Linked DNA regions of Homo sapiens: region 2 is linked to region 1. The links come from fine-mapping of genetic effects on plasma protein levels. Region 1 holds a variant in brackets. A gene starts in the other region. All regions are shown on their reverse strands.

Region 1 (4,000 bases):
CTATGTTATTTATATTATAACAACTATAGTAAATAAATGCATGTTTTTGCCTGCTGGGAATAAAGGCATATCCTATCCTCATTTCTCACATATTCTACTTAAAATGTTCCTAAGTAGCTTACCAGCTACTCTCTTATCTGCTGAAACTAACCAAATTCTGGCTGATGGTCAAAGACTATTTCCCTTGGGCACCAAGCTTCCTAAACAGTCAGGATGGTCTAATAAGGTTTTTTCTGAGTGTGGTACATTTACACCGTAGCATACATACTAATAGTTAAGTATTTGTTGCAACATGCATACGCACATCAAATTCATAAGCTGCTATATGCTGTCAATTAGAATGAGACCAAATTAAAATAAATGAGTTGATGCAGGATAAACTGAAGAAAATATGTTAAGTAACAAGTATAGGTGGTAACGTGAATATGGTGGAAACTAAGTCCAAAGTTTGGAAAATACTGGTCTGCTTAAAAAAAAAAAAAGTTCGGCCAAGAGTCTGAAAACTCTGATTCTATGTGCTGTCTTAATGTGTCCTTGGGGATCCTTCACTTATCATCCCTAGGCAGGCCTCACTACAATGATAGCAACAAAGCTGATAGGGTTAGGACAGTGTGACAAATGTGAAAACTTTTGGAAGTAGAACGCAAAGTCTTTTCACCTTCCAATCAGGTGTGACCACTGGCCAGCTGAGAAGCATGGACCTTTAAGTTATGACACACAAACCAACAAGGTATCAGAGTCAATGCTAATCCCTCTCCTTAAAACCTCCCTGAGTTGTGGAAAGTCATCTTGCCAAGCCTCTGGGCAAAGACCTCCTGAGGTTGGCTTGGTGGCAGGCAGGGGGCGGTAGATGGCAAGAGCACAAATGATACATATCACTGCAACCTGGTGTCTGATCTCAATAACACCTCTGCACAAGACCCCTGGTAAGGCAGGGCTTTCCAAGGTCAGGATTTGCCACTAAGCTCTTAAAATCTCTTCTGATCCTAGCAGAAGTAAACGATCAGTATCTCTGGTAAGCAACTGTATTTTTCTTTTTTTTTTTTTTAACCTTTCAGTGTCATTGTGAGGTTTGCCACATGCCTTGAGAAATAAAGCCCAATCTGAATGCTCAAACATGAAAGTCTGGCTGGCTCAGGCAATTGGAAGAAGATACCCATGCATGGTAACCGCTGAATGACAAGTTAGGTTTCCTGGAGAGAAAGACCTAACTATTCACCTTATATACTTAAATAATTGCCTCCTTTTTAAGGCAAAATAACAGCTCCTAAAGATGTCTCTGTCATAGCCCCAGAATCTGAGTATGTTACACCTTACATGGCAAAGGGCAATTAAGGATGCAGATGGAGTTAAGGTAGCTAATCAGCTGACCTTAAGATAATTATCAAGGTGGGTCTAATGCAATCACAGCGTCCTTAAATGCGGAAGAGGGAAGCAGAAGAATCACTATCTAAAAAGTGTCAAAGACTGGCTTGAAGACATAAGAAGCCATGAGTGAAGGAATGTGGACAGACTCTAGAAGCTGGAAGAGTCAAGAAAACAGATTCTAAGAGCCTCCTGAAAGGAACACAGTCCTGCTGACACTGGATTAGCCCAGTGAGACTCTGTATTGGTTCCCTATTGCTGCTATAACAAATTGTCATTAATAATTACCTATACTTAGTGGCTTAAAACAACAGAAAACTCTTCTCTCACAGTTCCAGACTCCAGATGTCTGAAATTGGTATCACTGGGTAGAAGCGAAGGGGTAGGCAGGACAGGGCCGTGCTCCCTCCAGAGGCTCTAGGGACAGTCGGTTCCTTGCCTCTTCCAGCTTCTGGTGGCTGCATGTATTTTTTGGCTTGTGGCCACAGCATGCTAATTCCTACTTCTGTGGTCACACTGCCTTCTCTTCTGAGTAATCCTCCTCTGCATCTCTGTGAGGAGAACATTTGAGGTGGCATTTAGGGCCCATCTTGACAATCCACGATAATTGCCCTATCTCAAGGTGCTTAATCACATCTGCAAAGACCCTTATTCCACATAAGGCTACATCCACGTTTCAGGAGTTACAGCCTAACACCTGGAGGGTGTTAGCCTACTACAGAGCCGTTTCAGATTTCTTACCTCCAGAACCATAAAATAAACATGTTCTTTTAAGCCACTAAGTGTAATAATTTGTTACAGCAGCAATAGGCAATTAATACAGCTCCTGTCTCTCAAATGTGTGCTACAGATCAGGACAAGGTCTGGGCATGAGGACAGAGCTAGCTCACCCCTACTATTCACATCAGCATCCTGGCGATCCTTTGTATCCAGAGATGTTGCTCCTTCTCCCATTAGCATACTTGACA[G/T]GATAGAATGCTAAGACTCAGCAGGAAGTGGCCATTAGAAGCTTCAGAAATCACTTCTCTTTCCTCTCGCTGATCACAGGTTTCTTAAGTAAACTGTATAGTAATTCAAAGCAAAGCTTAGGGGAAAAAAGGAACTGACATTCATTTCAGAAAATTCCTCTCAATAATGAGTACACTCCATCCACAAATGTCAAAGAGCTTTGCTCACAAAGCCAATAATCCCTATCACAAATATAAGGCAATGTAAACATTTAAGAACCATATTCCTCAATTAGGAACAGCCTTTTTGGGTAGCTTTCCTAGCATTCCAGTGGCAGAACATACACTTTTAAGCAGTTATTAATCACTATTCTATCTCTTGGCATGCTGTAATGCTGGTTTTCTAACATCTCTGCAGGGATTTCTATTTATAGAACTGCTCCTTCTCATTGATCTGCCTTCAGGACACTGAAGCAATTCCCCAGCTGACTTCTCTCCCAGAACTCACCTTGTTGGGACACCCCTGGGCTCTGTCCTCAAATCTCTTCTCTATCCATATTCTCTCCCTCAGCAAGTGTACCCTGTCCCACGACTGCAAATGCCAACTGTAAGTGGAGGCTCTCAAATTCATGTATCTATCCTTGACCCCTCAACTGAACAAGGTCCAGATCCAAACATCCATGTGCCACTCATGAGCTCCACTTCAGTGTTTAGTATGTATCCCCAGCTTAGCAGGCCCGAAAGAGAGCCGCTGCTTTCTGACAGACGCACAAAGCAGCTCAGCAAACAGCATCTCCCACTCCGGCTGCTCCAGCAAGACCCTTAAGCCCTCATGTGTACGTTCTCTTCACTCCTTCCCACCCCTCATATTTAATCCATCAGTATCTACCAGCTCTGCCTCCAAAATGTACCCCAAATCTATTTTCACTATCTCCACTATTTCAATCTCATTCCAAGCTACCCTCACCTCCCACCCACATTATAGCAATAGGCTCCTAGCTCGTCTTCCTGCCTGCTCTAGCCCCACCCTCCGCAGGGCTAAAAGCCATCTTTCTGAAGTGTAAATGTCAGAGGATGTCACTCACAGGTATAAAATTATCAGGGGCTTCTGGCTACAAGCAAACTCCAAACTGGACCATTACCTACATGGTCTGGCCACTGCCTACCCCTTGACCTCTCTCCTACTCTCTTTCTTACTCACATGCCATGCACACAACTCTGGCCTTCTGTCCTCTCCTGAACATGCCGAAGCTTGTTCCTGACCCATGGCCGTTGCACTTGCTGCTCCTTCTGCTGTAAACACTCTTCCTGCAGGTCTATGTATTATCATCCTTTCCTTCCCTGAAGCCTCACCTGCAACTTTTCAGTTATCACCCTAGCCTACCAAAAGCAACCACTCACCACCCTTTTTTCCTGCCTGTCTTTGTCTTTTCAGAACACTTTGGAAGACCTGAAGCAGTCTTAATTGTTTGTCGATGGAGTGTGACTCCCCTCCAGCAAACTATATGCTCACTGAGGGCAGGGCTTTTCCCATAGTATCCCCAGAGAGATACCTGTTCACAAGCTGACTGAATGGTTTTACAATTGAAGAGCAATATCAAGTCCTCTTAAAAAGGTACAGTGTTAGTCAATCTCCTTGGTTTTAAGGAATAGTGATTTCCTGGGTTCCTACAGGAAAGAGACCAAAA
Region 2 (4,520 bases), not on the chromosome of region 1:
CAGTCAAGTTCTGAGGAGGGTCTGGGACAGAAAGACATGGAGACCTGCATCACTGTGAGGGCTGGGGACACTGGCCCTGTCTCCCCAGGAGCTGCATAAATGGGGAAGGCGGAGCCAGCGTCCTCCTGATCCCACAACCAGCCCAGATTCTGGGACCCAGCACCCAGTGTCGAGCCCTGACCCCATCCTCTGCCCTCAGGGACGTCCCCCCCTCATCAGGGACCAGGGCGTCCTGGCTCAGCACTCACAGGACACATTGAGTTGGATGGTCCTGTTCGTGGTCACGCCGGCCCCAGGCAAGGTCACCTGACAGGTGAGGCTGGTGCCGTGGTGCTGGGGCTGTGGGATGAGGGTGAGCACTGAGGAGCGGGTGGTGGAGGGGTGCAGGGGGGACACAGAGGTCCCCATCCAGGAGATCATAGGGGGCGTCCCCTGCTCACAGGCCCAGGGCACAGAGCAGGTCAGATTCTGGAAGCAGCCAGACTCCAGGGTACCGGGGATAAGGATGTTGGGCCTGTGGGTCAAGGCTGGTGAAGAGAGGGGGACTCAGGATCAGGACAGAGGATCCATGGTACAGCCCTGGGGGAAGCTCAGGCTCTGGTTCAGCTTCTGCCCTGAGCCCAACTCGCTTCACCCTCAGCCCTCTCCCAGGGCAGGGGCCCCATCCCAGGCTTTCGCTGCCACCCCCATGACCTTTCCCTGTGGTGTCTCCTGGAGCCTGTGCCTTATCTGTCACATTCACAGAGAGCTGCTTCGTTTTGTAATTCCATCTTATCTGTCCTCTCTCCACCTGGAAGTAGTAGTTCCTCAAATCCCCCTTCCTGGCATCTCTGATGCTCAGGGAGCAGTTGTTGGTCTTCAGGTCCCCAAGGAGGTGGAATCGGCCCCGTGTCTCCTGCACTTTTCCATTTGGGATGTTTGTGGCCACTGGATTATTCCATTGTATATTGATCCCTTTCTTAAACCAGCATCCATGGACAGGGCTAGAGTCAGTTCAGTTGTAATAGGGTTAAAGGACACTGCAGGGCACAGAGACGCACTAGCCCTCCTGCACCATCACCAACTCCAGCACCTCCAGCCTGTATCTTGACAGTGGGGCCTGGGACGCTGTGGGGAAATGAGGCTCAGCCCAGCCCCGACTGTCCCTCTCTTCATTTGCCCACAAGAGAGGCAGCAGCATCTCTGAGACAGAGGGTTCCTGGGCTCCTTGTGTGAGCAGAGAAGTGGGAGGGAGAGGAGGGGCAGGGCTGTGGGACCCACAGGGGGCTGGAGAGGGGCTGGAGAGGAGCTGGAGACCTCAACCCAGCACGAAAGAGAAACTACAAACCCACATGCTATAGGAACTGGTTCCCTCTGCACAGAGTGAAGGAAACCCTGAAGCTCAGAGACCCTAGAGACCCACCCAGGGAGGAGAAGAGACCGTGTCCCACCTCCTACCTCCGGGCTTCCCTGGAGCACCAGGGCCTGCACCAGACACGTAGGTCCTGCCCTCCCGGCCTCTGGACCATCGTGGAGGTCCCTCCTGTCTTTTGAGCATCTAAATGTGGATCTCCGAGGACCTCAGGGCATGAGAGATGGAGGGGCCGTGTGCTGAGTCTCCCTGTCCAGGCTCAGGTGCCTCTGCTGCCCTTGGTTTGCGCCAGGAAGTGCTTCCTCCCTGGCCTGGCCTGAGAGAGTCACGGGGTTGTGTAGACCTAAGGCTCTCAACTGGGGAGGACTTAACCCCCCAGGACGTTTAACAATGTGTGGAGATAATTGTTATTGTCTCACTGCATGGGTGGAGTGGGTGCTTCTGGCATCTGGTGGGGAGAGGCCTGGGATGGTGCTAAACCCCGGCCATGCCTAGGACAGGCCCCAAAACAAGGAGTCATAAGGCCCCACATGCCACAATGCCAGCGTCAGAGGCAGGATGAGGATGTCAGGCCTGTGGGTCAGGGCTGGTGAGGGGAGGGGCCTGCAGGATCAGGAGGGGCATCCAAGGTGCGGTCCTGGGGAAGCTCAGGCTCTGGTCCAGCTCCTCTCCTGAGTCCATCACCCCCGGCCCCCTCCCAGGACATGTGTCCCGTCTCAGCCGTGCCCTAAAGCCCTCATCACATTTGCCTTTGGCCTCTCTTGGAGCCCGTGCCTTACCTGTCACGTTCACAGAGAGCTGGTCATATTTATAATTCCATTTTATATTTCCTTTCTCCATACGAAAGAAGTATCTCCCCGCATCACTCATTCTGGCATCTCTGATGCTCAGGGTGCAATTTTTGGTCTGTGGGTCCCCAAGGAGGTGGAATCGGTCCCGAGTTTCCTCCTGCACTGCCCAAGCTGGGTTGTTTGTGGCCACTGGAGCCTTCCAGCTTATATCATTCCCTGCCCGGAACCAGTAGCCATGAACTGGGTCAGAGTCAGTCTGGCTGTCCACTGGGTAGGAGAAGGAGCAGCGCACATGGACACACATGCCCTCTTGCACGGTCACGGAACTCTGCATCGTCAGCGAGTAATCCTTCCGGTTACTCTTCTGTCCTTCCACCCTCTCCCTCCCCCAGAGCAGGGGCAGCAGCAGCAGCAGCAGCATATCTGGGGTTGGAGGTGCCAGGGCCGCGAGGGAACGTCTGTTCCTCAGGGTTCTTCTCTCAGGAACTGCGGGCTCAAGACTTAGAAGAGGCCCTACAGGAAGTCGGTGGTGAGGTCAAAACAGTGACCTCCTTAGAAGAAGAACTTCACACACAGACACTGTCAGGGCTGGGTCAGCCCTGGGAGATCCACCGTCCACCACCCGACATTCACTCCTGGGTCCCTGAGGCCAGAGCGGGAGACAGACTCACCCAGATTCCCACCCCATGCAGGGCCCACCCCACCTCCTGCCTCCCTCTCAATGCCTTTCCCTTTAGGTGATATTTTCTGCAGGGTGAAAATAACTCCCATCTGCCCAGACCCCTGAGTCACAGGCTGTGGATGTCTGCGTAGCTCAGAAGTGGGACTCGGGGCCATGAGAGACAGGGGTGCAGGTGGGGTGAACAGGCAGCCTCTCATCCCTCCCTCAGCAGCCACGAGGTGGGCACCCCCTTTCTGCACAATGAGGTCAACACAGCAGAGCCGGACACTGTCCCCAAGGAGTCACTGTGTGGTGGGGAGACACTGAGTCTCCTGACGTTTGAGCTCCCCATGACAGGAGCTTCAGTGGGGGGCACAGGCAGGGTGGGGTCACTCTCCCCTAGGTCGGGGGTTCAGTCTCAGGAGGACCGAGCAGACGGACATGGGGCTGTGAAGGTGAGGATTGCGCCTGTTGATACACGCCAAGGACACGGAGGGGAGCCCAGCCTGCAGGAGGCCGGGGAAGCTGAGGCTGTGATTGTTGTATTGTGGGGCTTGGTAGACAGGAAAGTCATAAGGGAAAGGATCAATATGAAAAGAGCAGACACTATTCCCATCCTCACAGCTCTCTGAGCACAAGGACATTTCCCTTCACCACTGCTATCTCATGAGGCCTGGTTAGTGCAGAGTGTGAGGGGTCTGCTGGCCCTGGGGCTTTGCTCCTGCAGGAACTGCTCCTAGGGGTTCAGGTGAACAGGAGACGTGGAGCAAAGACACCAGCCCCGGGGCGTCCACCCTCAGTGATGGGCGCGATTTTCTGAGAGAAGAAACACGCACCTGACTTCAACAGAAGATTATTTTAAACTGTGTGACTGGGCTGGGAGGAAGTGGGAAAAATCCTGCAAGCTGCAGCCCCCTTAGATCCAGGCCAGCTTTTCTTGAAACAGTTTTTTTTGAGCGGGGAGAAACACAAGACATGTACATAAAAGTGTCCCCTAAAAACCAACTCAGTGATTCACACAAAATAAGCACCCTTGAAGAACTAGAACACAAAAGAACTGTCAAGTCTGTCCCTTGAAATGAAGAAAGAGATTTTATTAATTCATTCACCCTTACATTCCCCTTTCCTATTGGCCATGCCCCCGCTCCCTCCTGAAGGAGCCCCTAGCCTCACTTTAATGATAATAGTCTTCCTGCTGTTCTATGTAGTTTTATCATCGGCACATGCTGCCTTGAAAATTCTAACTTCACGTAGGTTTTCCTGAAGATGTTGTATACATAGAAAATCCCAGTCTGTTTTCTTCCATACAACTGCATTGATCTGCTCAGCCCACACTGTCCCCTAATTGTCCATAACCTAGAGATCATTTGGCTGTAACGATTGAGAGAGGAAGATGCTGGGTTTGGGCGTCCGAAGCCACTCCCCGCCCTCACCTCCAATCCCTGCATTTGCAGCTAGTATCTCATCCTGCAGACCAATCTGCCTCCTGGGCGCCTCCTCCTTGCCCAGCCACTCTCTCCCCATAAGGATATTTGCAGTATCTCAGTGGGCAGAAGTGTTACCGGATGGTGCCATGCAGTTCCAGGCTCTTGGTGTCTTAAACAAAGAATTGGATGAGACACACACAGACAGCAAAGCAAGAAGCAGCAGTTTATTAAGCACAGTATCACACTCTTGGAGAGGGAGAGCGAACTGATCTCTATGAGGTGAGATCAGC

Alleles and levels. Positions count from the first base shown, and alleles are read on the strand shown. Strength reflects both the effect of a copy and how common the allele is.
For the plasma level of the protein whose gene starts at base 2,632 in region 2, G is the high allele of the variant in region 1 and T is the other (weak association).

Evidence for each region. A credible set is the group of variants that fine-mapping cannot tell apart. PIP is the posterior inclusion probability: the model's chance that the variant is causal. Protein levels are from antibody-based Olink assays in UK Biobank. Linkage for the fine-mapping came from a reference panel and not from the study's own genotypes, which makes the PIPs less certain.
Region 2: it holds the start of SIGLEC7, and the variant in region 1 is the best candidate, but not a certain one, in a credible set for the plasma level of the SIGLEC7 protein (UK Biobank, PIP 0.67).

The regions. Positions count from the first base shown.
Region 1 is chr2:134,204,625-134,208,624 of GRCh38, reverse strand. It overlaps a transcript of MGAT5 not described here. Among named protein-coding and RNA genes, the nearest start is that of MGAT5, 47 kb to the left of the region's middle. RefSeq lists a silencer at 1,713-2,007. The variant G/T (reference allele first, on the strand shown) is at 2,334.
Region 2 is chr19:51,140,413-51,144,932 of GRCh38, reverse strand. It overlaps SIGLEC7 (sialic acid binding Ig like lectin 7), which reads right to left and starts at 2,632. Exons shown (of 7, transcript NM_014385.4): 1 at 2,131-2,632; 2 at 249-527; 3 at 1-21. The coding sequence starts at 2,563. LOC124904749 (a long non-coding RNA gene) reads left to right here and starts at 4,423. Exons shown (of 3, transcript XR_007067310.1): 1 at 4,423-4,509.